2 separate regions of the Homo sapiens genome follow, and region 2 is linked to region 1. The links come from fine-mapping of genetic effects on gene expression. A gene starts in region 1. The other region holds a variant in brackets. All regions are shown on one strand. Distances are between the middles of the regions.

The links. PIP is the estimated chance that this variant, and not a neighbour inherited with it, causes the effect. A credible set is the group of variants that fine-mapping cannot tell apart.
Region 2: its variant is the best candidate, but not a certain one, in a credible set for the expression of FASTKD1 in whole blood (TOPMed, PIP 0.63).

Annotation. Positions count from the first base shown.
Region 1 is chr2:169,572,489-169,574,988 of GRCh38, forward strand. It overlaps FASTKD1 (FAST kinase domains 1), which reads right to left and starts at 1,377. Exons shown (of 15, transcript NM_024622.6): 1 at 1,181-1,377. RefSeq lists enhancers at 959-1,128, 984-1,586, 1,489-1,588.
Region 2 is chr2:169,529,974-169,533,013 of GRCh38, forward strand. It overlaps FASTKD1 (FAST kinase domains 1), which reads right to left. Exons shown (of 15, transcript NM_024622.6): 13 at 1,379-1,517; 14 at 614-728. Among named protein-coding and RNA genes, the nearest start is that of KLHL41, 22 kb to the left of the region's middle. The variant C/G (reference allele first, on the strand shown) is at 1,291.

The sequences.
Region 1 (2,500 bases):
AGTTTCTAAAAAGTGTAGGCATTAATTCAGAGCCATATATATTTATACATACATATATATATACTTTTTTTTTTTAATTTTTCAGAAGTATGGTCTCAGGTTTATTTGCTTTCAGGATAATTTCTTGCCCCTTTTTCTTGTGCCCTTAAAGAGCTCAAATAATTCCTTTCTTTAGAAAATAAATAAATAAAAGAAGTCATATAATTTAATCATTACTGGCCTTGGATAGGTTTTAACCAATGAACGACACAATTAAAGCACCAATCAAGAAATACTAAGAAATTAAGTAATGTTTCAAGTCATGCTGAAACAATAAAAGAACTAAAGATAATTATGAAAAAAGAATAATTTGTTTTAAAAATATGCTATAAATGTTTACATTTATAATTGAGAAGTAATGGTTAGAAAAGCAGGGACTAAAGTCATATAATCTAATATTTCTGCAACATGTTACCATTTACAAAGAACGTTTGAAACACATTATCTCATTAAATTCTCTCAGCTAACCTTCCAGGTTGATATTATTTCCATTTTACAGATAAGGCAAAATAGGTTCAAAAAGGTTTAAAAAATCCTTCTAGTACTAGTGAAGCAGGGACTACAACTCAGTTCTTTCCACTTGAACAGCTTCATTACACAAACAAATCAACGCTGTATCACTAAATTCATGTCTCAGACCCCTCTCTACGGCTATGCCAAACAGTCTGTTCACAAGAAAAAACGACGCGACAGTACAGGCTATTTTGTGGCAAGCAGTACAGCATCCTGACCTAAGCTGACCTGGGTCACAAACCTGCACAAGAAAACCCTGCACAAATCAAAGGTATCCTCAAGATACTATATTCATCCACTGAGCTGCTCAAAGTGGAGGCAGCTCAATGGTTAGCATAGAAAGGTGTCGAGTCCCCAGCTTTGCCCCAGCTGAATGACCTTAAGGAAGGAACTTAACTACAGGAAGGGCCTTGGGACCCTAAGGGGTATCTTCTGCGCCGGGCATAAAGGAGAGCTAAACAAATGAGTGAATGAATGGGGTCTCAGCCCTGCCCTAGTCCATCCGCACTTCAGAGAACCCAATATCCCGAAGGAAGCCTCCGTATCTCAACTGAACCCTATGTCCCCAGCCCGAAAACGTGCTGGGTGGGAAAAGAAAAATAGCCGCTGCCACACAGTCCCGACTTGCCAGCAAGGTTTTCCCTCAGCGCGCCGCAAATTTTCTGGAGGATCCTGGGGTTATGAAAGCTCAGAAGTCAGGGTTATTCCTGGTCCCAACACGGAACGAAACAGGCTCGGATGTCTCGCCCAACCCTCATATCTCAGGGTTTATAACCTTTCTTCGAGAGACATGACCTTTCCCATGAGACCTTGCCCCCAAACCAGGAAAAAATGCCCGGCAGGCGCAGCGTGCACTGCGGAAGTCACGCACTACATATCCCAGGGTGGGTCGCGGCGAGGTGGGTGAAATGGACGTCGCTCACGCATTTTGGGGGAATTCTGGGCATTGTAGTTCCTCATTGAGGGAGGCTCTAGCGCAGTACACAGCTTAAGCTGTTGAAGAAGATATAGGTCGTTTAGGTGATTCTCTACTATCTAAGGTTGTTCTCCTAGTCCTTGGAAGTCTACTACTTTTATAATATACACAAAAATATACTTAGGAAAATGAAATTTAAAAATGTAAACATGGAAAAGACACGTACAGATTTTTCTTATTATTTTTTAGCATATACGAAATAACTCTGTCGAGTAACTTTGAAAGTATGCAAACTCATACTCTCAGTTTCTGCACTTATGTCGTGGATAGGTACCAGTTCTCAGACCATATTTTTTTTTTACTTACCATGGTATTTTAATAGTCCCAAGATTTGACACTTGACACTTAAAAAAAAAATACCACTAATAAATAACCAAAGTGGAATGCTTACCAAAGTTACAACAGACATAATTTTCAGCTGATAATCACTACAACAAAGTAAGGCTCTAAAGGTACCAAACTGATATTTGTTGGAATATGCTGTGCAACTTTCTTTTTTTTATTTTATTTATTTATTTTTTTTATTGATCATTCTTGGGTGTTTCTCGCAGAGGGGGATTTGGCAGGGTCGTAGGACAATAGTGGAGGGAAGGTCAGCAGATAAACAAGTGAACAAAGGTCTCTGGTTTTCCTAGGCAGAGGACCCTGCGGCCTTCTGCAGTGTTTGTGTCCCTGAGTACTTGAGATTAGGGAGTGGTGATGACTCTTAAGGAGCATGCTGCCTTCAACCATCTGTTTAACAAAGCACATCTTGCACCGCCCTTAATCCATTTAACCCTGAGTGGACACAGCACATGTTTCAGAGAGCACAGGGTTGGGGGTAAGGTCATAGATCAACAGGATAAGAATTTTTCTTAGTACAGAACAAAATGAAAAGTCTCCCATGTCTACTTCTTTCTACACAGACACAGCAACTTTCCGATTTCTCAATCTTTTCCCCACCTTTCCCCCTTTTCTATTCCATAAAACCGC
Region 2 (3,040 bases), 42 kb before region 1:
AAAAACATTGAGGAAGACATATAAGCACTACTGATCAAAGCTGTAGGAATCCTATGAAATTAGTTTACATAAGGATAGCCTGTGAACCTCTACTGGAAGCCAAGTGGGTCCTTCTGACATTGCCTAGAATACTTTTTTCTGCTCCTTTCATCCTCCTTTTCCTACAATACCAATGATGGACATTTTTTCCTACATAGTCTTCTATATTCATACCTAGTTGTTTCCTCTGATAACTCTATCCATCTCTACAGTGCCTCTCTCCTTTGTAAGATATAGAAATCATAAGATATGGATATTCTAAAGACAATAAAATAAATGACAACTTTTATTTATTTATTTTTATGAGACAGGGTCTTGCTCTGTCACCCAGGCTGGAGTGCAGTGGGATGATCACGGCTCACTGCAGCCTCAATCTCCTAGGATCAAGCAATCCTCCCACCTCAGCCACCCAAGTAGCTACAGGCATGAGCTATTGTATCTGGCCTGTTTGAGTGATACATTTTAAAAAATATATTTAAAAAGGTAATTCTGGAACTTTCACATTAAAAGGAAGCACATGTACAGCTAGTGTCTCTGGGCTTTTTAGAGGCTGAATTACATGAGTATTTCATACCTGAATTACACGATACCCCAGAATTTCCAAATGTCGTTTTTTCATAGCAGATTTTCCTTTCATGTGAGGGATATTTCTACAAAGTGCTTTTGAATCCAAAAATTCCAAAGCAATCCTACATAAAATAAAAAAATATTTACTCCTAAAATCAGAATAAGAAACTGAATAATTACAAGCTTTTCAGAAACAAGATTGCATCTTTATAAACTAACAAAAGCCAATGAATATAAATGAGTATATCAAGTTATGTTTCTACTAAGAAATTAGTAATTGATGACAAACCTATTTAGTTACACAAAATTATTGTAAATATTTGTCTGCTTTCATCCATTTTTTTGGTCCAATATATATTTACACATGCCTACTACATGTAAACCACTGTGAGGGGTACAAATATGAAGCAACACAGCTTATAGTCTAACAGAGAACACATGATGTATAGTAAGTTACTGTAATGCAGTGTAGGAAGTGGCTAAGTGCTATGAGAAAAGTAGAGAGGTATGGGAGCGCAAAAGAAGATACTATTTTACTTCCAGTGGAGGACAATTCTTTTAGCACTTTAGTTAGGGAGATTGCTAGGCTTTGGACAGAAGAAGGGAGAACATTAAAGCAGAAAGGAGAGGAAAAGCAAAGTTACAAAGGTGGAATGCATGACATATGAGGAACAGATTCCACTA[C/G]CTTCAATCCTTGATCACTGACTTCAGTATAGTACACCAAATTTAACATTTAGATATTAATACAATCTAAAACTAAGAAATAAATTACCTTTCAGCCCCTGGTGGCAGCCTTGATCCAACTATTTCGATATTTGATTCCCAGGGCATTTCTGGTAGTTGTCCCAATGCTATATTATGGCTTCCATACGGAAGAGGTTTTTTTCTTTTATCCAAGATACACTCAAAATCTTAAGGAAGCATAGAAACTGGTAGTATGAATTAGGTAAAGTCTTACAGATAAAAGTTTAAGATATATTTGAAATATATATGCATATAATATTTGTACACACACACACTCACAAAAGAATGACGAACCTCTCAGATTATCCAAGTTATTTTTATAAGATCTGGTCCAATGGCACCTCTCTTTGGAAATCAATCAATAAAAAAATCAACCAGAAGAATTACAAAACAATATTAAGTACTAGGCTACATTTAGCGCTGGGCTAGGCCAAATCACATTAAAGAGTTTCAATCTCTTTAAGGCTCTTGATTACATTTGGAGAAAGCTAAACCAACTCATCTGAAAATTAATAAAGAAAAAGATACAAGCATTTATCCTGTCTTTTCTACATGAATTGTACATAAGAGTAACTAAACAGTTGATATGGGAAAGTCCTTTTTAGACAAATTCCAGCTAATAAATGTAGAAGGCATGATAGATGTAGAATATCGCTACTTTACCACCCCTCTGAATGATGGATTTAGGCAATGAGTGATCATTAATAACTGCTAAAATCAGCAGGTGAAAAGCTGACAGGGGAACTTTCTGTTGAATGAATCAGCTGACAACATACGAACCCACTGATGAGTCTTAATGTATAAAAGACAACCAGGCCAGGCACAGTGGCTCACACCTGTAATCCCAGCATTTTGGGAGGCCGAGGCAGGCAGATTGCTTGAGCTCAGGAGTTCCAGACCAGCCTGGGCAACATGGCAAAACCCAATCTCTACAAAAAACTTAAAAAATAAGCCAGGTGTAGTGGTAGCTACTCCGGCTGAGGAGGCTGAGGTGGGCGGATCCCTTGAACCTAGGAGGTCAAGGCTGCAGTAAGCCATGCTTGTGCCACTGCACCTCAGCCTAGGCAGCAGAGCCAGACAAAAAAAAAAAAAAGGAAAGAAAGAAAAAGAAAAAGACAACCAGCCTTGTGTGCCTCCTGAGAGGATGCAGAAAGAAGTACAAGCCACTTATGAAGTTTTTGGCCAAAAAGAAAAACCTAAAAAAAAAACCTAAAATCTAATCAAATCTCTAGATATCACTAATGGTTTACAGCAAACCCAGGTTTACAGTAAAAACATTAAAAACTATCAGATGACATTTTAAATGTTATCACAGGGCTGCAATTAGAAAAGTTCGAAATGTGGAAAAAAAAAACTTATTCTCAAATTTTAAGTTAAAAAAAGAAGTAGGAAAGGAAAAGTTGAACCAAAAACTGCAAACCAACCAAGTGGAATGTTAAGATCCCAATTTGGACAAACTATAAAATAAACATAAAAGACACTTAAAACAGGAAAAGCAAAGGTATAGGGGTGCAGTGCATGAGACGTATGAGGAATAGGTTCCACTGCCTTCAATCCTTCACCATTGAGTTCATTATAGTAGGCCAAATCTAACATTTCGATAAAATGTTAAATTTTATCTAAAATTTCCCATATCTCCCTACTTATGTTACATTTCCCATAATTCCCATAAATGTTCAATTTTATCTAA